7 linked regions of the Homo sapiens genome follow. The protein of the gene in region 1 purifies or fractionates together with the protein of each later gene. This does not show direct contact. Each region holds a gene or a part of one and is shown in the gene's direction. Other genes may lie near its edges. The genes, in order: POLK, RBM42, NELFB, SF3A3, ACAP2, TUT7 and RCN2.

Region 1 (2,300 bases):
ATTTGGAAAAGAAAAAGACACAGAGACAAAGTATAGAGAAAGAAATAAGGGGAACCGGGGAACCAGCGTTCAGCATATGGAGGATCCCGCCAGCCTCTGAGTTCCCTTAGTATTTATTGATCATCTGTGGGTGTTTCTCAAAGAGGGGGATGTGTCAGGGTCACAAGACAATTGTGGGGAGAGGGTCAGCAGACAAACACGTGAACAAAGGTCTTGGCATCATAGACAATGTAAAGGATTAAGTGCTGTGCTTTTAGATATGCATACACATAAACATCTCAGTGCTTTACAAAGCAGTATTGCTGCCCGCAGGTCCCACCTCCAGCCCTAAGGCGGTTTTTCCCTATCTCAGTAGATGGAGCATACAATCGGGTTTTATACCGAGACATTCCATTGCCCAGGGACAGGCAGGAGACAGATGCCTTCCTCTTGTCTCAACTGCAAGAGGCATTCCTTCCTCTTTTACTAATCCTCCTCAGCACAGACCCTTTACGGGTGTCGGGCTGGGGGACGGTCAGGTCTTTCCCTTCCCACGAGGCCATATTTCAGACTATCACATGGGGAGAAACCTTGGACAATACCTGGCTTTCCTAGGCAGAGGTCCCTGCGGCCTTCCGCAGTTTTTGTGTCCCTGGGTACTTGAGATTAGGGAGTGGTGATGACTCTTAAGGAGCATGCTGCCTTCAAGCATCTGTTTAACAAAGCACATCCTGCACCGCCCTTAATCCATTCAACTCTGAGTTGACACAGCACATGTTTCAGAGAGCACGGGGTTGGGGGTAAGGTCACAGAATCTCAAGGCAGAAGAATTTTTCTTAGTACATAACAAAATGGAGTCTCCTATGTCTACTTCTTTCTACACAGACACAGTAACAATCTGATCTCTCTTGCTTTTCCCCACAGCAAAGCAATTTGCATGCTCAGCCTTGGCACTGGTTGGAAGGAGGGACTGCCAGTGAGAATTTGAACCATAAACCAGTACACATGTAGGCTTGTAATCTGAATTCACACAAATGGTATCATCCTAAAGAGCTCAAGCAGAAAATGTAATTAAAGTGAGGTTAGTATTGCCCCTAGTGACTGGCAGAAGCATATGCAAATCCTCTATGGAAGAACTCAACTTCAATTCAGGCAGACAACTTAGTATCTCAATTAAAAAGATGTGATAATGTGAAAAATAGGTGTTACAGAATTGATGACTACAATGTATCTCCCATCCTTGAAGCTCACACCCTCCCAGCTAGGGGTAGCCATGTGACTGAGTTTTGACTAATGGGATATAAAAGGAAGTACTGGCCGGGTGCGGTGTCTCACGCCTGTAATCTCAGCACTTTGGGAGGCCAAGGCGGGTGGATCACCTGAGGTCAGGAGTTCGAGACCAGCCTGGCCAAGATGGTGAAACCCCGTCTCTACTCAAAATACAAAAAAGTAGCTGGGCGTGGTGGCACACACTTGTGATCCCAGCTACTCAGGAGGCTGAGGCAAGAGAATCGCTTGAACCCGGGAGACGGAGGTTGCAGTGAGCTGAGATTGCACCACTGCACTCCAACCTGGGTGACAAAGCGAGACCTTGTCTCAAAAAAAAAAAAAAAAAAAGGAAGTACTGTGTGTGGTTGCTTCTGGGAACCTTCCTTTCTTGCAGCTGTAGCATTCTGTTTGCCTCTTCTTTCTATTTCTCTGTTCCATCCTGCTGCCTGGAAGCAGATGCTGCCGTTTACACCTGAACATAAGGGTTGCACAGGGGGATGGTAGAGTAGTGGGCTGCAGGGGCTGATTCTTGGGGCTTTGTAAAACAGAGACATATCAGCACTGGCCTGCACACTTTGAGACTTTCACAAGAAACAAATTAAAAAATTGTTTAAGCCATAGTTACTTGGGTTTTCCTATTAATTATAGCTGAATCCTAGCTGATAAAGGACATAAAGATTATTAAGACATGTTTGTCCTCAAAAAATGGAGAGCCACCCCAGGGACAGTTTCTATTCAATGTAGGGAGGGCTATAATAGATGAATATACAAAGTGGGAGTCTAGGGAGAAATCGTCTGGTAGAGGAGGGCAAAGAGAAATCTAGGAAGATGTTTTTAAAAATATGGAATCCTTGAACAGGACCTGGTTTTAAAGGTTTACTTCAGAATTGAACATATTTTTTTAGTCTAGACCTTTAGGGGAAAAACTTAAAGCTTTCAGGACTCAAAGACAAGTTACTGTTCCCATGGCTAAATTGCATTCCATATTTATTTGACAAATACTTATTGCAGGTCGGGTACTGTTTTAGCCACTGGAGATGCAGTAAGAAACT
Region 2 (3,075 bases), on another chromosome or scaffold:
TCAAGACCAGCCTGGCCAACATGGTGAAATCCCGTGTCTCTAAAAATACAAAAAAATTAGCCAGGCTTGGTGGGAGGCACCTATAATCCCAGCTACTCGGTTGGCTGAGACAGGAGTATCGCCTGAACCCAGGAGGCAGAGGTTGCAGTGAGCCGAGATCAGGCCACTGCACTCTAGCCTGGCAACAGAACAAGACTCCATCTCAAAAAAAAAAAAAAAAAGAAAAGAGATACTTTTTGCATATCATAATACTATTATCAAGTCTAAGAACATTAACTAATTCGGTATCTTCTTTTCAGTTTATATTCGTATTTCCCTAGGTGTCCCAAAACTCTGTTAGAACTATTAATGTTTTTGCCCTGAACCAGCATGCATGCAGTTTTATGTCCTTCAATTATATCTTTTTTTTTTTCTTTTTTTTTTTTGAAACGGAGTCTTGCTCCATCGCCCAGGCTGGAGTGCAGTGGCGCAATCTCGGCAGCTCACTGCAACCTCCACCTGCCAGGGTCAAGTAATTCTCCTGCCTCAGCCTCCCGAATAGCTGGGACTACAGGCGCGCACGACCATGCTTGGCTAATTTTTGGTATTTTTAGTAGAGACGGGGTTTCACCATGCTGGCCAGGCTGGTCTCGAACTCCTGACCTTGTGATCCGCCTGCCTCAGCCTTCCAAAGTGCTGGGATTACAGGCATAAGCCACCACGCCCAGCCTCGATTATATCTTAATAAGAACGGTCTCTTTCCTGCCTCTTTGTTTTGTACATATTTTTTGAAGTGTCCAGGGCAGTTGTCATGTATGATGTCCCACCTTCTGAGTTTGTCCGGTTGTTTGCTCCTGGCATTGCCTAACTTGTGCTTAGAGTGTCCCATATCACAGACGCCATGGGGCAGCCGTGCAATGGCTGAGGAAGGAGATGGACCCCTCCTGCTTCAGTGTTTGACTTCCACCCCCTCTCCTGGGACCGTCTACCTGGCCCAGAGAAGACCCTAGCTCTGTGACCTTGGGCAAGTCACTTAGCCTGGTTTTGTTTTGTTTCTTCTTTTGTTTTTTTTTTTTTTCTTTTTTTTGAGACAGAGTCTCGCACTGTCACCCAGGTTGGAGTGCAGTGGTGTAATCTTGGCTCACTGCAGCCTCCGCCTCCTGGGTTGAAGCAATTCTCCCACCTCAGCCTTCCGAGTAGCTGGGATTACAGGCACCCACCACCACACCCAGCTAATTTTTGTATTGTTTAGTAGAGATGGAGTTTCACCATGTTGGTCAGGCTGGTCTTGAACTCTTGAGCTCAAGTCATCCACCTGCCTCAGCCTCCCAAAGTGCTGGGATCACAGGCGTGAGCCACTGTGCTTGGCTCACTTAGCCTTTTAAGCCTCATATTCCTCATCCCCTCCCTTGTGGGGACAGGGATTCATTGGGACAGAGCATGTTCAGTGGAAGCACAGGCCCAACTCAGAGGCAGCATGAGAATGTCAGCTGGGTGCAGCCATGGCGGAGGAGCAGGCAGCATGTCCAGGTCTCAAGGGGGAGTTAGGGCAGGCCTTGCCAAGGAAGCAGGGCTGAGGAAAGATGAAGCCCATGTTCCTGAGGTGCCATGACGGGCAGCCAGTGGGTGACAGGGGTCCAGGGGACCAAGGGACACCAAGGCTCAGAGGAAAGGCCAGGGCTAGGGCAGAGTTAAGGGTGTTACTACAGGAATGAGTGAGGTGGCCCTGGGGTGGGGAGGGCAGTGCAGTTCAAGGTTAAAAGTAAGGACTGGAGCCAGATGCCTGAGCTCTTGTCTTAGCTCTGCCGCTTCCTGCTTGTGTCACTGTGGGCAGTGACTTCACCTCTCTGTGCCTCAGTGTAAAAGCATGGTTGGGAGTGCCAGAAATGGAAACACCCCTCCAGGTGCCAGCAGAGCTCCTGGCGCAGGGTCAGTAGGTGTTGACCATTATTACTAAGAGGTCCCTAGGCAGAGACTAGATACCTCCGAAAAGGTGGGATCGTTCAGACAAGGTAGACACTGGGCAAGGCCTCTGCATCCTCTGATGTCATCTCTTCCCCATCCCCAGATGACTTCCGGATCTTCTGTGGGGATCTGGGCAATGAGGTGAACGATGACATCTTGGCACGCGCCTTCAGCCGCTTCCCATCCTTCCTTAAGGCCAAGGTGATCCGTGACAAGCGCACAGGCAAGACCAAGGGCTACGGCTTCGTCAGCTTCAAGGACCCCAGCGACTACGTGCGCGCCATGCGTGAGATGAATGGTGGGTGCGGCCTCCCCTGGGAACTGCAGGCGCGGCAGGCGCTGGCCTAAGCCTGACCCGAGCCTGCCTTGAACCCTCTGTCTCCACAGGGAAGTATGTGGGCTCGCGCCCCATCAAGCTTCGCAAGAGCATGTGGAAGGACCGGAATCTGGACGTGGTCCGCAAGAAGCAGAAGGAAAAGAAGAAGCTGGGCCTGAGATAGGGTCTGTGGCCAGGCACCCGCTCCCACCTGGCCGGGCGCTGGCTCCTCCCTCAGTTCTCTTTGGAAAACCCCCAGCTGTCCACCCATCCCCTGCCCCAAAACCAGTTTCAATAAATTTACGTTCATTTCCACCCCTGGCTGGGCATGGAAGCACGCTGTGGGGAGCAGGGCTTGGCTTCCCCACAGCTGGAAATGGCGGGGAGCCTTGAGAGTTTACCCAGGCAAACACCCAGGCGGGGGCTTCTGAGCCCTTCCTGCGCACCCATTCCCTCTTCAAACCTCTTCCACACATGCTGAGTGCTGCTTATTCCAGAGGAGAAAGGGGGGCCAATGGCAAGGGTGAAGCCAAGCTGAGGCCCATCCCCGTGTCCTGGCTACTTCCTGTGTTCTCAGCACCAAGGTAGGAGATCTAGGCCCTTCCCTTCTGGAGCTCACAGGCTTCTAGGCCCTCTTCCATCCAGCAGACTCTCACCAAGGGTCTGAACAGTGCTTGAGGACACAATGGTGACTAAAAGTCCTGGGCCCTGCACCGTTAGAGCTCAAGGTCCAGTGCAGAAAATAGGCCCGGTGCCCTGACGATAAGAGCCCAGAGTGGTCAGGGCAGGATGGGGGCGCTGACCTGTGGGTGAGG
Region 3 (3,500 bases), on another chromosome or scaffold:
TTGCCCAGGCTGGTCTCGAACTCCTGGGCTCAAGTAATCTGTCTGCACACCTCAGCCTCCTGAAGTGCTGGGATTATAGGTGTGAGCGACCACAACTGGTTGTGAGATTTTTTAATTAGCCAATTTTTTTTTTTTTTTTTGAGACAGAGTCTTGCTCTGTCACCCAGACTGGAGTGCAGGGCCTCAATCTCGGCTCACTGTAACCTCTGCCTCCTGAGTTCAAGCAATTCTCCTGCCTCGGCCTCTCGAGTAGCTGAGACTACAGGCGCGCCCCACCATGCCTGGCTAATTTTTTTATTTTTTTGTTTAGTACAGACAGGGTTTCACCATGTTGACCAGGCTGGTCTTGAACTCCTGACCTCAGGTAATCCGCCCACCTTGGCCTCCCAAAGTGCTGGGATTACAAGTGTGAGCCACTGCGCCCGGCCCTAACCAACTTTAAACTAGCACTGTTCAGTGGAAAAAGCGAACTATAAGTTAAGATTTTTCAGCATCCACATTAAGAAAAAAAAATGAGATCAACTTCATTAATGTTTTCTTTGGTCCAGTATATCCAAAATATTATCTTTCAGCATGTAATTCATGTGAAAGATTGGGCTGGGTACGGTGGCTCACGCCTGTACTCCTAGTACTTTGGGAGGCGGAGGTGGGAGGATCGCTTGAGCTTAGTAGTTAAAGACCAAAGGGAGACCTTGTCTCTACAAGAAAAAAAAATTAAGCTAAGCATGGTGGTGCGTACCTGTTGTCTCAACTACTCAGGAGGCTGAAGCAGGAGGATTGCTTAGGCCTCGGATATTGAGGCTGCAGTGAGGTATGATTGAGCCACTGCACTCCAACCTGGGCGACAGAGTGAGAGATCCTGTCTCAAAAGGAAAAAAAAAATATTGAGCTATAATGCTTTTTGCGGGAGGATCACTAAGATTTGAAACCTGGTGAGTCTTTCATGCTTAGAGCCCATCTGAACTACTGCACTTCAAACGCTGAGCAGTTAGTGTGGCTCTGGGTTCCCTTCGGGCCGTGGTTCCTGACCATGTGCGTGGGCAGCAGCAGGCTTGTTGGGGGTGGCAGTGCCACCTCTGTCCTCCCTTCCCTGTTTGTTTATTCCCAGTTAGGTCCTCCATGGGCCTTTTTCTTGTTCCATTGCTGTCAGACAGAGCCCTTGGACCCCTCTGCTAACTGTGGGGTGCCCTGCATTTCCCAGGCCTTTCTCCTATCGCCTGTCTCTTCTGGTGACTTGGTGCTGCCTATACTGATTTCTGTCTGTAAGGGAAATCAGTCGGCTTGGTCGGCTTAGTCCTAGGTTGATTCTCTTTTATTTTTATTTTATTTTATTTTATATATTTTTATCTTGTTTTATTTTACTACTTTTTAAAATTTATTTTTTATTTTTTTATTATTTATTTATTTATTTTTTTGGAGACAGAGTCTTGCTCTGTCACCCAGGCTGGAGTGCAGTGGCACGATCTTGGCTCACTGCAAGCTCCGCCTCCCGGGTTCACTCCATTCTCCTGCCTCAGCCTCCCAAGTAGCTGGGACTACAGGCGCCTGCCACCATGCCCGGCTAATTTTTTGTATTTTTTTTTTTAGTAGAGACGGGGTTTCACAGTGTTAGCCAGGATGGTCTCAATCTCCTGACCTTGTGATCCACCTGCCTCAGCCTCCCAAAGTGTTGGGATTATGGGCGTGAGCCACCGTGCCTGGCCTATTTTTATTTTTATTTATTTTATTTTATTTTATTTTTGAGACAGAATCTTGCTCTGTTGCCCAGGCTGGAGTGCAGTGGTGCAATCTCGGCTCACTGCAAGCTCCGCCTCCCGGGTTCACTCCGTTCTCCTGCCTCAGCCTCCCGAGTGGCTGGGACTACAGGCGCCCACCACCACGCCCAGCTATGTTTTTTGTATTTTTAGTAGAGATGGGGTTTCACCATGTTAGCCAGGATGGTCTCGATCTCCTGACCTCATGATCCACCCGCCTCGGCCTCCCAAAGTGCTGGGATTACGGGCGTGAGCCACTGAGACCGGCTATTTTATTTTATTATTTTTTTTAATTTTTAAAATTTATTTTTTAAAATTTTTTTTATTTATTTTATTTTAATTTTATATTTTGTTTTATTTTATTTTAGTTTGTTTTATTTTTTTTTTTTTGAGACGTAGTGTCCTTCTGTTGCCCAGGCTGGAGTGCAGTGGTGTGATCTCAGCTCACTGCAACCTCAGTCTCCCAGGTTCAAGTGATTCTCCTGCCTCAACCTCCCGAGTAGCTGGGATTACAGGCACCCACCACCACGCCCGACTAATTTTTGTATTTTTAGTAGAGATGGGGTTTCACCATGTTGGCCAGGCTGTTCTCGAACTCCTGGCCTCAGGTAGTCCACCCACCTTGGGCTCCCAATTTGCTGCAATTACAGGTGTGAGCCACCGTGCCCAGCCCGATTCTCTTTTAAAAAGCTAAATTAGGCCGGGTGCGGTGGCTCACGCCTGTAATCCCAGCACTTTGGGAGGCAGAGGTGGGTGGATCACGAGGTCAGGAGTTCGAGACCAGCCTGACCAACATGGTAAAAACCCATCTCTACTAAAAATACAAAAATTAACCAGACCTGGTGGTGTGCGCCTGTAGTCCCAGCTACTCAGGAGGCTGAGGCAGGAGAATCACTTGAACCCGGGAGGTGGAGGTTGCAGTTAGCCAAGATTGCGCCACTGTACTAGGCGACAGAGTGAGACTCAGTCGCAAAAAAAAAAGCTGGGCGCAGTGACTCACGCCTGTAATCCCAGCACTTTGGGAGGCCGAGGCGGGTGGATCATGAGGTCAGGAGATCGAGACCATCCTGGCTAACATGGTGAAACCGCATCTACTAAAAATACAAAAAATTAGCTGGGCGTGGTGGTGGGTGCCTGTAGTCCCAGCTGCTCGGGAGGCCGAGGCAGGAGAATGGTGTGAACCTGGGAGGTGGAGCTTGCAGTGAGCTGAGATCACGCCACTGCACTCCAGCCTGGGTAACAGAGCACGACTCGGTTTCAAAAAAAAAAAAAAAAAGTAAAAAAAAAAAAAAACTGGGTCAGGTGTGTGGCTCATGCCTGCAATCCTAGCACTTTGGGAGGCCGAGGTGGGTGGATCACCTGAGCTCAGAAGTTCAAGACCAGCCCGGGCAACATGGTGAAACCCCGTCTCTACTACAATACAAAAAATTAGCCAGTCATGGCAGCCGGCGCCTGTAATCCCAACTACTTGGGAAGCTGAGACAGGAGAATAGCTTGAATCCGGGAGGTGGAGGTTGCAGTGAACCAAGATCTTGCCATTGCACTCCAGCCTGGGTGACAGCGCAAGACTCCGTCTCAAAAAAAAAAAAAAAAAAAATTGATTGGGTGTAGGGACCAGCCCCACAGGGTTGATGGGTTTTTCTCCCCGTGTGCGGAGATGAGAGATTGTAGAAGTAAAGACACAAGGCAAAGAAATGAAAAGACAGCTGGGCCCGGGGGACCATTACCACCAAGACGCGGAGACTG
Region 4 (3,500 bases), on another chromosome or scaffold:
CAGTTATGACTTATGAAAAGGCATTTTCATAAGTCATCTCATGTAAGTCAACTTACATGTTCATAAGATTATGAGAAACTTAGTAGGGCTAGAATATTATTAGTACAAAGCTGGCAGTGAATGTTCTTGAATATTTCAGGAGGAGCTGAAGTGTGGGTTGGGGTAGAGAAAGGCCTAGCCTGACCAGTATGCTTGTCTCAGAGAGAAAGCAGGGAGAGGAGTAGGAGGAAAAGAAATCTCTTTCCAGGAAGAAAAAGTGGAAGAAAGGGCAGCACTCATCCAGAAAAGATGATCAGTGTCTCTGGAGTCCTTCAGAAGACCAGCCTTTCTGATTGTGTCTGCTGTGTACAGTTTTTTTTTTTTTTTTGAGACAGAGTCTTGCTCTGTCACCCAGGCTGGAGTACAGTGGTGTAATCCGGGCTCACTGCAACCTCCACCTCCAGGGTTCAAGCAAGTCTCCTGCCTCAGCCTCCTGACTAGCTGGGACTACAGGCATGCGCCACCACGCCCGACTAGTTTTTTGTATTTTTAGTAGAGACAGGGTTTCACCATATTGGTCAGGCTGGTCTCGAAATCCTGACCTCGTGATCCGCTTGCCTCGGCCTCCCAAAGTGCTGGGATTACAGGCGTGAGCCACCGCGCCCAGCCCAATTTTTAACTCTCAGAGCCTTTCCCTTTACACATACTCGCATGGTCCGTTGAGTGGATGGCTCTGGATCAGATAGCTTGTTCACATATTTTTGTTAATTGCCGTGGACATTTTCATTCGGCCTTTGAGGACCATTCGTATAATAGCTGTAGAACTAGTCACCTGTGATTCTGTTATGACTGCTTTCAGTAAAAGGCTAGCTAGACATTGGACATTGGAGAGATATATTCTCCGCTGTGAACTTGGGCTGTGCTAGTGTGGACAGCAGGCTGAATTGCCAGTCTTGTGAGTGGCTGGGAGGCCACTCATGCCCTTGACATGAGATTTGTCCACCACTTTCTCCCTCTTTTTTTTTTTTGAAATAGTATCTCACTCTGTCACCCAGGCTGGAGTGCAGTGGCGGGATCTCAGCTCACTGCAACCTCCGCCTCCTGGGTTCAAGTGATTCCTGTGCCTCAGCCTCCCTGGTAGCTGGGACTACAGGTGTGTGCCACCACACCTGGCTAATTTTTGTATTTTTGGTAGAGACAGGGTTTTGTCTTGTTGGCCAGGCTGGTCTTGAATTCCTGGCCTCAAGTGATCCGCCTGCCTTGGCCTCCCAAAGTGCTGGAGCCACTCGACGGCCTCTCCATCCTTTAAGAGCATTTTGCTTTCCCTGCCAGGAGATGGCACTATTCTCTTCGGAATTCCAACCAGTTCTAGCCAAATACTTTCCAGAAGTTGCTCTCACTATGAACTGATAAGATTTTTGCCATTATTATACCATTTGTTGATGTCTGTTGGTTTTTGGACATTATGCAAATTTTTTTGATACAATAGTGAATAAGACACAGCCTCTTGCCCTTAAGAAACTCATTTTGTGGTTAGGGGAGACAAATAATTACAATATAATGTGATACATACCTGAATAAAGTGAGGTTGAGTCTTCTAAGTAGAAAGAGAGAAGGGAGAAGAAAAAGTTTCTGGTAGAGGAAACAGCAAACACAAAGATACAACAGTATTAGATAAAATTATATGTTCAGGAAATGAGAAATGCAGTGTGTGTGGAATATGGCTTATGAGGGAGGGAATGGTCGGAGAAAACTCTGTCAGAGAGTTATGTTGGAAATTTGGACTTTGCCTTATAAGCAGTAGGAAGCCAATAAAAGTTCTCTTAAGTAGGATAGCGTGCCACTACAGATTTGGGTTTTTAAACAGATAAACCTGGTAGCAAAATGGAAATTGGATTGGAATGAGGAGAGACTCAAGGCAAGTTAGAAAGTGGTCATCTTGGGCCGGGCGCAGTGGCTCATGCCCGTAATCCCAGCCCTTTGTGAGGCCAAGGCGGGCAGATCACAAGGTCAGGAGATCGAGACCATCCTGGCTAACACTGTGAAACCCTGTCTCTACTAAAAGTATAAAAAATTAGCCAGGCATAGTGGCGGGCATCTGTAGTCCCAGCTACTCGGGAGGCTGAGGCAGGAGAATGGCATGAACCCAGGAGGCAGAGGTTGCAGTGAGCCGAGATTGCGCCACTGCACTCCAGCTTGGGCGACAGAGCAAGACTCCATCTCAAAAAAAAAAAAAAAAAAAAAAAGTGGTCATCTTGGTGAGGAAAGGAGAAGAAAGTCCTGGTTAAGGAAATATTTTTTTTTTAATTTTTTTTTATACTTTAAGTTCTAGGGTACATGTGCACAACGTGTAGGTTTGTTACATATGTGTACATGTGCCATGTTGGTGTGCTGCACCCGTTAACTCGTCATTTACATTAGGTATATCTCCTAATGCTATCCCTCCCCCGTCCTCCAACCCCACAACAGGTCCCGATGTGTGATGTTCCCCACCCTGTGTCCAAGTATTCTCATTGTTCAATTCCCACCTATGAGTGAGAACATTCGGTGTTTGGTTTTCTGTCCTTGCGATAGTTTGCTCAGAATGATGGTTTCTAGCTTCATCCATGTCCCTACAAAGGACACGAACTCATCCTTTTTTATGGCTGCATAGTATTCCATGGTGTATATGTGCAACATTTTCTTAATCCAGTCTATTATTGATGGACATTTGGGTTGGTTCCAAGTCTTTATTATTGTGACTAGTGCTGCAATAAACGTAAGTGTGCATGTGTCTTTATAGCAGCATTATTTACAATCCTTTGGATATATGCCCAGTAATGGGATGGCTGGGTCAAATGGTATTTCTAGTTCTAGATCCTTGAGGAATCGCCACACTGTCTTCCACAATGGTTGAACTAGTTTACAGTCCCACCAACAGTGTAAAAGCGTTCCTGTTTCTCCACATCCTCTCCAGCACCTGTTGTTTCCTGACTTTTTAATCATCGCCATTCTAACTGGTGTGAGATGGTATCTCATTGTGGTTTTGATTTGCATTTCTCTTTGTAGATTCTTTGTAGTTCTTTGTAGATTCTGGATATTAGCCCTTTGTCAGATGGGTAAATTGTAAACATTTTCTCCCATTCTGTAGGTTGCCTGTTCACTCTGATGGTAGTTTCTTTTGCTGTGCAGAAGCTCTTTAGTGTAATTACATCCGATTTGTCAGTTTTGGCTTTTTTTTGCCATTGCTTTTGGTGTTTTAGTCATGAAGTCCTCGCCCATGCCTATGGCCTGAATGGTATTGCCTAGGTTTTCTTCTAGGGTTTTTATGGTTTTAGGTTTAACATTTAAGTCTTTTTTTCTTTTTCTTTTTCTTTTTTTTGTTGGAGACAGAGTCTCACTCTGTCGCCCAGGCTGGAGTGTAGTGGCATGATCCCAGCTCACTGCAACCTCCACCTCCTGGTTCCAAGCGATTCTCCTGCCTCAGCCTCCCGAGTAGCTGGGACTACAAGCATGTGCCACCATGCCCAGTTAATTTTGTG
Region 5 (3,500 bases), on another chromosome or scaffold:
CCCTTAATTGTATGTAGTTGCATGTAGTAGGTCTTTAAAATTTTACAAAACCTCCGTAAAAGTACTGCTTTTCTTTTACTTAAACATACTCTTGGGCTGAACACTGTGGCTCACATCTGTAATCCCAGCACTTTGGGAGGTGGAGGACGGCGGATCACTTAAGGTCAGGAGTTTGACACCAGCCTGGCCAACATGGTAAAACCCCATCTCTACTAAAAATACAAAAATTAGCCGGGTGTGGTAGTGTGCACCTGTAATCCCAGCTACTTGGGAGACTGAGGCATGAGAACTGCTTGAACCTGGGAGGCAGAGGCTGTAGTGAGCTGAGGTTGTGCCACTGTACTCCAGCCTGGGCAACAGAGCGAGACTGTCTCAAAAACAAAAAAAACAAAAAAAACAAAAAAACCCAAAATGTATTCTGTTTTACTTAGGAAGTGAATATCTATTTGAAATAAAAAGTAGAATAAATAAATTGAATAAATAAACATCTTTCTGAATTATGAAAGATTTTTGTCAGCAGTGTTCAAGTATAAAAATATTGTGGCCAGGTGCAGTGGTTCATGCCTGTAATCCCAGCAGTTTGGAAGGCTGAGACAAGAGGATCGCTTGAGGCCAGGAGTTTGAGACCAGCCTGGGCAACAAAGTGAGACACCGTCTCTACAAAAATAAAAAAATTAGTTGGGCATGGTGGCGTGCATCTGTGATTCCAGCTACATGGGAAGCTGAGGCAGGAGGTCAAGGCTGCAGTGAGTTATGTTCACACCTCTGCACTCCAGCCTGGGCAACAGAGCTAGACTCTCTCTCTCTCTCTTAAAAAAAAAAAAAAAAAGGCCTTAGCCTTGGTATGCTTTAGTTTTTATCTGATAATTTATTTTTATCCTTTAACAATGTCTATCATACACCATCCTGCAGGTTTTTCATTTTTAGATTCTATTTCAGATATGATTCTTTTTTTTTTTGAGATAGAGTTCTGCTCTTGTTGCCCAAGCTGGAGTGCAATGGCACGATGTCGGCTCACTGCACCCTCCGGCTCTTGGGTTCAAGCAGTTCTCCTGCCTCAGCCTCCCGAGTAACTGGGATTATAGGCGTGCACCTCCACGCCTGGCTAATTTTTTGTATTTTTAGTAGAAACGGAGTTTCACCATGTTAGCCAGGCTGGTCTCGAACTCCTGACCTCAGGTGATCCGCCCGCCTCAGCCTCCCAAAGTGCTGGGATTACAGGCATAAGCCACCATGCCCGGCTAGATACGATTCTTGTTCAGTAACTTAGAATAACTTTTTTTTTAAAAAGGGTGTTTGTGGGTGAATTATGTTTGAGAGACAGAGTCTTACTTGTTATCCAGGCTGTTCTCCAACTCCTGGACTCAGGTGATTCTCCTGCCGCAGCCTCCTGAGTAGCTGGGATTACAGGTATGAGTCACCATGCCCAGTCAGGTGAAAGGTTTTAATGGGCGAAAGACATTGGAATAAAATGTGACTACTAAATACACCTCAGTTATGTGTTGCTATTAAGTCTGGATTGGTGCCAATCTTGTCTCCTTCCTTTGCCTTCCATCTTTATAATAAACTTTTAGCAACTGCCTGTTAATACAGTGGGTAAGGGCTGAGGGGAAATTTTTTTTTTTTTTAATCTCAGAAGCAGTAGAATGGAATTATAAAGTAATTTTATTATGAACCAAAATACAGGAATCCTGACTGGGTGTGGTGGCTCAAACCTGTAATCCTAGCACTTTGGGAGGCTGAGGTGGGCAGATCAGTTGAGGTCAGGAGTTCGAAACCAGCCTGGCCAGCATGGTGAAACACCATCTCTACTAAAAATACAAAAAAATTAGGTGGGCGTGATGGTGGGCACCTGTAATCCCAGCTACTCGGGAGGCTGAGGCAGGAGAATTGCTTGAACCTGGGAGGCAGAGGTTGCAGTGAGCTGAGATTGCGCCACTGCACTCCAGCCTGGGGGACAGAGTGAGACTCCATCTCAAAAAAAAAAAAAAGAAAATTCTTGCAGGTGGGGCGCAATGGCTTACATTTGTAATCCCAGCACTTTGTGAGGTCGAGGTGGAAGGATTGCCTGAGACCAGCCTGGGCAACATAGAGACCTTGTCTCTAATTTTAATGAAAAAAAAAAAAAAAAAAAAGCATGTAAAGTAGGACTTATCCTCATTTTAAAAATGTGGGTTTTTTTTTGCTTTTTTTTTTTTTTTTTTTTGAGACAGAGTCTCACACTGTCGCCCAGGCTGGAGTGCAGTGGTGCAATCTCCACTCACTGCAACCTCCACCTCCCTGGTTCAGGTGATTCTCCTGCCTCAGCCTCCCGAGTAGCTGGGATTACAGGCGCCTGCCACCACACCTGGCTAATTTTTTATATTTTTAGTAGAGACGGGGTTTCACTATGTTGGCCAGGCTGGTCTTGAACTCCTGACCTTGTGATCCACCAGCTTCGGCCTCCCAAAATGCTGGGATTGCAGGTGTGAGCCACCTCGACCAGACTCAAAAATGTTTTAAAAAATCCGGAAAAATCTGCAACTGGACATTTTGATAGATTAATTGACTTTTTAAAAATAGTTACTTCTTTTGCTAGTAATTGACTTTCTTAATGGTGAACTTTCACATGGTGGTCCTGGAAGAGAATTCACTCATTTACTCTATATGTTAAGCCAAAGGCTTTAATTTCATTTGTTAGGCTGGGTGCAGTAGCTTATGCTATAATCTCAACAGTTCAGGAGGCTGAGGAGGGAGGATCACTTGAGGCCAGGAGTTTGAAATCAACCTAGGCAACAGAGTGAGACCCTGTCTTTACAAAAAAAAAAAAATTAGCCAAATGTGGCCCACGCCTGTAGTCCCAGCTACTCAGGAGGCTGAGGCAGGAGGATTGTGATGCCCTGGAGTTTGAGGTTACAGTGAGCTATGGTGATGCCACTGTACTCCACCTTGGAAGACAGAGCAAGACCCTGTCTCTTTAAAAAAAATTATTAAATATTGTGTCAGTTAAATTTGCGTTGTTTATGGTGTCTTTTATCATATAGAAATTTAAAAGCTGGCTTTTGTTTATTGCCTAGCAAAGTTTCCCTACCCCATTATATTTTTCTGTCATTTTATAGTGATTTTAAGTTTCATGTAATGCAACTGGGTCTTAGTTTTGATTGTAGCAGATAATCTAATTTTATTTTCTTCCTAATGAAAACCACTTGTTCTAACACCTTTAAAAAAAATTCATTCTTCATTGATTTAAAATGAATCGCACATCCCTTTTGTGATGTGCGGGAGGACAAATTTCCTCTTGTTATATGTTTTACATATTTAGTCTTTACAGTACTTTTTTCTTCAATTTCAGAAGAGGATATGTCTTTCTATGTATTTTGGCCTTATTTATTTAAAACTTTTTATTATTTGGCCTTATTAAAATTTCAGGGATGATTCAACTATATGGTATTTAGGAAGAGACATACTTTAGATTTAAGGACATAAATAGGTTGAAAGTAAAAGACAAACCATGCAAACAG
Region 6 (3,500 bases), on another chromosome or scaffold:
CAGTAAGCTAAGATCACACTACTGCACTGCAGCCTGGCCGACAGAACCAGACCTTATCTCAAAAATAAATAAAAAACAAACTTTACCTTGTTAATGCTATCTACTGAGAAGACACAATGATTTAGGAATTTTTAAATTTAAGCTTGTAAGTTTTATTTTCTAAAAAATAAATTTTTTTCAGCTTTTTCTAAGAGTGTCAACCGGCTTATTTTGTCAATATGTCTATTTATTTTTAAACAGAGGATTTTTCTCCAACAATTATAGAAGATCAGGCTCGTGAACATATTCGGCAAAACCTAGAAAGTTTCATAAGACAGGACTTTCCAGGTAAATGATTTATTTTTTATTTTTAAGAAAAGTAGTGTAACCTTTTTTCCAAATCAGTTCATGTGTTACAAGCACACTGATTTTGAGAATCAGGATTTCCATTGTTTTGCAATATACCCAGGATGGTCCTTGGTCTGCCAAATCCTCATTTACCAACAGAAACAGTGTAGGGTTTATTCTAGCAAGTGCCATAAGTGAATTTCATTTAATACTATGTTTAGAGTCAAAGTTAAGCTTACATTATTAAATGTGTTGAGGTGATCTAACATTTTCCTTGAAATGTCTTTGCATTTAAGAATAAAGGAGCACCTGGTAATCTTTCTTGCCATATACAGCTTGTATGTAAAGGAAGCTTTGAGAGAAAAAGACTTTAGCATAAATGACCAGTTAATCAGAGAACATAAGTATGAGATTAATATAGGATAATTAAACAACTGGGTGTTTTTGATTCATGAGAGGGCCATTTTGATCAAAAATTAAATGTACTCAGGTAATTAGTTATTACTTTTCATATATCCCTAACAGGAACTAAATTGAGCCTGTTTGGCTCCTCCAAAAATGGATTTGGGTTCAAACAGAGTGACCTTGACGTCTGTATGACAATTAATGGACTTGAAACTGCTGAGGTACAGTGACCACATAAAACTTCCATTTGCTGTGGCAGTGTGATTTAACCAATCTAGACTGGCATTACAGCTTGGTATTTTCCAAATTTATCAGGGCATACCATATAGAGTGTGCTGTTTGGCACAGTCTCTGGCCAAATACATTAAGAGGCTTGGAAAGGTTGTGAGGAATGTGAGGAGCAGAAAGGTTATACTTTCACTCTGTAGCAAAAAGTGGATTGGAAAGTGTTGCCTGGGAATTCTACATAGCCAAACCAGCCTCTTCAGTGTCCCATTGGCTTGGCTACTATGCTGACTTGGATCACACACTCACATAAGGTTACCTGTAAAGTTTGTTACCAGACAGGCAGTGTGGTAAATCATAAGAGTACTAACCTTAGAGTCCAGAGGCCTGGATTTGAGACAAACTTGTTTCATCAGTACCTAAACATGTGGTCTTTGGTAAATAATCGATAAAGTATAATATCTGTTCCTCCTGCCTCCGCTGATTTTTGTACACATTATCATGGATCATGTGGGTCAGGAGTTAGCAAACGATGGCCCTTGGGCAATTCAGCCCCCCACTGCCTGTTTTTGTAAATAAAGTTTTATTGGGACAGAATCACACCCATTCACATATGTAATGTCTATGGCTGCCTTCACTCTTAAGTACAGAGTTTAGTAGTTGTAAGAGACCATATGGCGTGCAAAGCAAAACAAACTTGCCAGCCCCTGGGATATCTGAAGGCATTTATAAAATATAAAACACTATATAAAGGTATAAAGTCTAGGAAGTGCTGAGTCCCTATTCTTTTAAATCCTTAACAGCAGTCCAAATGCTAAATATCCAAATGAATGATGCTGCTGTTGCTGAAGACCTTTTTGTACCTTTTCTTAGTTTCAAGTCTTTCTATTTTGAGGATGTATCTGATTTGGGAAAATAGTCAAAAGTGATCTAGCCTGAATTTGAATAAAGTATATAAGCAAGATTGGCTCAACATATGGAATGACCCTATCATACATCCTCAAGGTTTATTTATTTATTTATTTTTTTACATGGCTTATAAACTAGTTTTGAGGGCATTTCTAAAGTAACATTCCACGTATGTTCTGGGATTTTTATAACCATCAAAAAGGCGTATGTTGAGTCAGCCCAAATGTTTTTAAGAATGATTTATCAAATACTATTTATATTTGCTGTATGACTTTAGTTATATGCATTATAATTCTGGCTAGTCCTATAGGGAAATAATTTGAGCTTAATCACTCTCCACAGCAATTCATCAACTCTTAAACTATAGAAGGTCTGCTTAGAATGAATGAGCTGGGGCACAGAAGCCTCCTCTCATTTATTCTGGGACATGGGGTACATCCGAGTGATATTATGTGGAGGGGAAGAAATGAAGGTCCTCAACCATGGTTCAGAGACTTTTTTGGAAGCCCTAGGTCCATAAGCTTCCTGACTGATTTTAGCCTTTGTTGCACACCCAAAAACAATTAGGAAGTAGGGTATTTAGTGGTTTTTGTACCGTCAGGATATTTCCTGTGAATACTGACTCTAATACCCAACTAGAAAGGAAAAAAATAGATATAGACTGACTTGAAATTAATTACATTATTTCTGAAGGTAATGGAAACTATAGCCAGTTTCAGAACCTGTCTTCCAGTTTTGGTTAAGTTCTTTATGCCTTCTTTGTTGTAGGGATTGGACTGTGTCAGAACTATTGAAGAATTAGCAAGAGTCCTCAGAAAACATTCAGGTACCTCTGTAAACTTTTTCTAAAAATATTTCTGACTTTTTAATTAGTGTTTTCTATAGTCTTCCCTTGGTATCCATGGGGTATTTGTTCCAGGCCCACCCATCACCCCTCAACCCTCCCTTCCCCAGCAGATAAAAAAAATCCTTAGATGCTCAAGTTCCTTATATAAAATGGCATAGTATTTACATATAACCTATATGCATCCTTCCATATAGTTTTAGTCATCTCTAGGTTACTTATAATACCTAATACAGTGTAAATACTATGTAAATAGTTGTTATACTGTATTTTTTATTTGTATTTTTTTATTGTTGTATCGTTAGTTTTTTATTAGTTGCTTTTTTCTCTTAAATATTTTTGGTTTGTGTTTGATTGGATATGGGGATGCAGGACCCACAGACATGAAAGGCCAATTGTATTTAGAGTTTATTAATGCCATGAAGCAGTATAGTGGCTCATTCATAGAATAATTGCAATATTAATGTCTTTTTAAAATCTTGTATGCGTAAGTATGAAAGACTGAGGAATTGGTGATAATTTATATGCATATTGTTGCCTAGCTCAGTTTTATTTCAAGACAAAGCCTACGCCAGACAGGCAAGAAAGGCTATAAATCCTTTTCCTTTGTTGGCGTTGTATAAGTCAAAGTGTAGGAGTTGCTAATTGTGTGAAGTGTCAAGGAAAGCACCCCGGACTGGGCTTGTGGGTTGAATTTGCAGCTGTTCTGCTCAACAAGCTGTATATGACCCTGAACAAGTCCTTCACTTGAAGCGATCTCTTTTTTTAAGAAATGGGATCTTGCTAGGTT
Region 7 (3,073 bases), on another chromosome or scaffold:
GAGTTCAGGTACAACTTCAAAGGGGAAAATTGAATGGGATGTGCACATGTTGGCTCATATGTAGTTCTGATTGGGCCAATTTGCAGGACAGAAAATGATGTCTAGATTATGATATAAATTTAAAGGAAGCCAGGACGTTCAGAGGAAAAGCTAGCATATCATGTTTGCCTTACTTAGTTCTTTCCTTTGCAGTTTTAAAAATAGGCTTTTTTTTTTTTTAGTGTAGTTTTATGTTCACAGCAAAATTGAGCAAAAAGTAGTATAGAGAGTTTCAATATGTCCCCTGCCCCACATACGTACAGCCTCCCCCACTATCCTATCCTATATGTCATGAGATAGTACCTACCAGAGTGGTACATTTGTTAAAATCGATGAAACTGTTAACATATCATTGTCACCCAAAGTGCATAGTTTACATTAGGGTTCACTCTTGGTGCTGCACATGCTCTGGGTTTGGACAAATGTATAATTACATATTCCCACCATTGTAGTGTGGTAGAATATTTCCCTTGCCCTAAAGTCTTTCTGCTCCACCTATTCATCCCTCCCTTCCCTGTAACCCCAAGCAATACTGATCTTTTTACTGTTCATAATTTTTTAGATTGTAGTAAAATACACATAACAAAATTCATCTTAACAGTTTTTAATTGTACAGTTCGGTGGTATGGTATTAAATACAGTCAAAATGTGAAACTATTACCACCTTCCATCTCCATGAACTTCATTTGTAAAACGGAAATTTATACCCATTAAACAATAAAGCCCCCTTTCCCCTTCCCTTCAGCACCTGGCAAACACCATTCTAGTTTTTTTGTTTGAGATGGAGTCTTGCTCTTGTTGCCCAGGCTGGAGTGCAATGGCATGATTTCGGCTCACTGCAACCTCTGTCTCTTGGGGTCAAGCGATTCTCCTGCCTCAGCCTCCCGACTAGGTGGGATTACAGGCGGGCACCACCATGCCCCCTAATTTTTTGTATTTAGTAGAAATGGGGTTTCACCATGTTGGTCAAGCTGGTCTCGAACTCCTGATCTCAGGTGATCCACCTGCCTCAGCCTCCCAAAGTGCTGGAATTACAGGCGTGAGCCACCGTGCCCAGCCTCCCATTCTAGTTTTCTTTTTCTTTCTTTTTTGAGACGGAGTCTCACTCTTGTCATCCAGGCTGGAGTGCAGTGGTGCGATCTCGGCTCACTGCAACCTCCACCTCCCAGGTTCAAGCGATTCTCCTGCCTCAGCCTCCCAAGTAGCTGGGATTATAGATGCCCGCTACCACGCCCGGCTAATTTTTGTACTTTTAGTAGAGACGGGGTTTCGCCATGTTGGCATGGCTGGTCTCGAACTCTTGACCTCAGGTGATCCACCTGCCTCGGCCTCCCAAAGTGCTGAGATTACGGGCATGAGCCACCGCGCCCAGCCCCATTCTAGTTTGTGTCTATTAAAATAGACTCATATAGTATTTGTCTTTTTGTGAGTGGCTTCACTTAGCATAACGTCCCCAAAGTTCACCCATATTGTTACCAGAATTTCTTTCGTCAGGCTGAACAATACTTTATTGTTTGCATATACCACATTTTGCTTATCCATTCACCCTTTGATGGACACAGGTTGCTTCCACCTTTTATTGTGAATAATGCTGCCATGAATATGGGTGTACAAATATTTCTTTGAGATCCTGCTTTTAGTTCTTTTGGATATATATTATACATAGAAGTGGGATTGCTGGATCATATAGTAATTCTATATATATATATATATATATATATATATATATATATATTTTTTTTTTTTTTTTTTTTTTTTTTTTTTTTGAGACGGAGTCTCGCTCTGTCGCCCAGGCTGGAGTGCAGTGGCGCGATCTCGGCTCACTGCAGGCTCCGCCTCCCGGGTTCACACCATTCTCCTGCCTCAGCCTCCCGAGTAGCTGGGACTATAGGCGCCTGCCACCGCACCCGGCTAATTTTTTGTATTTTTAGTAGAGACGGGGTTTCACCGTGTTAGCCAGGATGGTCTTGATCTGCTGACCTCGTGATCCGCCCGCCTTGGCCTCCCAAAGTGCTGGGATTACAGGCGTGAGCCACCGCGCCCGACTAGTAATTCTATTTTTAATATTTTGAGGAACTGCCATAGTGTTTCCCACAGCAGCTGTGCCATTTTGCATTTCCACCAATAGTGCACAAGAGTTCCAGTTTCTTTACATCCTTACCAACACTTGCTATTTTCTGTTTTTTTTTTTTTCTTTTTTTTTTTTAATAGTAGCCATCCTGTTGGGTGAGACGTGGTATCTCGTTGTGGCTTTGATTTGCATTTCCCTAATGGTCTGTCTCTACAGTTTTGCCTGTTCCAGAATATCATTCCTTTGCAATTTAAATGTGAGGATAAATGTATGCTATTGTTTCTCAAACGTTTTTGTGTTACAATACCTCCTTTTGAGTGAGAAATGTCAACTCAAACTTACACTTTTTCACTTAGGAAGATGATTTAGGAAAGCCACTTAGAGTAAAAGTTTTTAAACAACTGTAAAAACTAATTTGCTTCATTGCAACATTTGAGTTCTGTCGAATAAATATTTGGCCAGATTTCCTGCCTGCTATAAAATTTTTTATAACTAGTAACCAATTACCTAAGGGCCTCCAGTGCAGCTACTAAAACGTCTCTATTTTATTTGGCGGGGGGGGGGGGAAACACCTCAATCCAAGCACAAAAAAAACAAGTACTGCTGAATACCTACAGTTTGCCCTATCTTTATCTCAAATTAACCAGTTAGTTCCTGAGCTGTAGAAAGGAAACCATTTGAGCTTATAAAACTATTTTAAAGTGATTATGGGGATTTTTAAAAATCTCATAGCTTTTAATCATGATTTTTCATACCTTAAAGAAAAAAACCCTACTTTTGCTTTCTGTTCCACAGAGATATTTTTCTTCTGAGACCAGGTTCCAATGAACAGAGGGCATCAACATTTTGCTCAGTTATTGTACCATTAGCAGTGATTGGTAACCTAAGTAGAGAGACTGTTCCATTACAATGACACACTAAAAGCATAAACTAAGGTCTTTTTGTGCCAGCTGCTGGCCTGTC

What was found.
Region 2: the proteins of POLK (region 1) and RBM42 purify together in Homo sapiens (affinity purification with mass spectrometry, with the first as the bait; one large-scale study listed by BioGRID). This does not show direct contact.
Region 3: the proteins of POLK (region 1) and NELFB purify together in Homo sapiens (affinity purification with mass spectrometry, with the first as the bait; one large-scale study listed by BioGRID). This does not show direct contact.
Region 4: the proteins of POLK (region 1) and SF3A3 purify together in Homo sapiens (affinity purification with mass spectrometry, with the first as the bait; one large-scale study listed by BioGRID). This does not show direct contact.
Region 5: the proteins of POLK (region 1) and ACAP2 purify together in Homo sapiens (affinity purification with mass spectrometry, with the first as the bait; one large-scale study listed by BioGRID). This does not show direct contact.
Region 6: the proteins of POLK (region 1) and TUT7 purify together in Homo sapiens (affinity purification with mass spectrometry; one large-scale study listed by BioGRID and IntAct). This does not show direct contact.
Region 7: the proteins of POLK (region 1) and RCN2 purify together in Homo sapiens (affinity purification with mass spectrometry, with the first as the bait; one large-scale study listed by BioGRID). This does not show direct contact.

The regions. Positions count from the first base shown.
Region 1 is NC_000005.10:75,605,891-75,608,190, forward strand, and holds part of POLK (DNA polymerase kappa), read left to right. Parts: 3' UTR 1-2,300. UniProt on the Homo sapiens protein: DNA polymerase specifically involved in DNA repair. Plays an important role in translesion synthesis, where the normal high-fidelity DNA polymerases cannot proceed and DNA synthesis stalls.
Region 2 is NC_000019.10:35,635,111-35,638,185, forward strand, and holds the end of RBM42 (RNA-binding protein 42), read left to right. Parts: intron 1-2,047; coding exon 2,048-2,242; intron 2,243-2,331; coding exon 2,332-2,444; 3' UTR 2,445-2,575; downstream 2,576-3,075. UniProt on the Homo sapiens protein: Binds (via the RRM domain) to the 3'-untranslated region (UTR) of CDKN1A mRNA.
Region 3 is NC_000009.12:137,258,327-137,261,826, forward strand, and holds part of NELFB (negative elongation factor B), read left to right. Parts: intron 1-3,500. UniProt on the Homo sapiens protein: Essential component of the NELF complex, a complex that negatively regulates the elongation of transcription by RNA polymerase II.
Region 4 is NC_000001.11:37,973,023-37,976,522, reverse strand, and holds part of SF3A3 (splicing factor 3A subunit 3), read left to right. Parts: intron 1-3,500. UniProt on the Homo sapiens protein: Component of the 17S U2 SnRNP complex of the spliceosome, a large ribonucleoprotein complex that removes introns from transcribed pre-mRNAs.
Region 5 is NC_000003.12:195,436,521-195,440,020, reverse strand, and holds part of ACAP2 (arf-GAP with coiled-coil, ANK repeat and PH domain-containing protein 2), read left to right. Parts: intron 1-3,500. UniProt on the Homo sapiens protein: GTPase-activating protein (GAP) for ADP ribosylation factor 6 (ARF6). Doesn't show GAP activity for RAB35.
Region 6 is NC_000009.12:86,316,411-86,319,910, reverse strand, and holds part of TUT7 (terminal uridylyltransferase 7), read left to right. Parts: intron 1-240; coding exon 241-327; intron 328-852; coding exon 853-953; intron 954-2,634; coding exon 2,635-2,692; intron 2,693-3,500. UniProt on the Homo sapiens protein: Uridylyltransferase that mediates the terminal uridylation of mRNAs with short (less than 25 nucleotides) poly(A) tails, hence facilitating global mRNA decay. Essential for both oocyte maturation and fertility.
Region 7 is NC_000015.10:76,951,821-76,954,893, forward strand, and holds the end of RCN2 (reticulocalbin-2 isoform a precursor), read left to right. Parts: 3' UTR 1-2,573; downstream 2,574-3,073.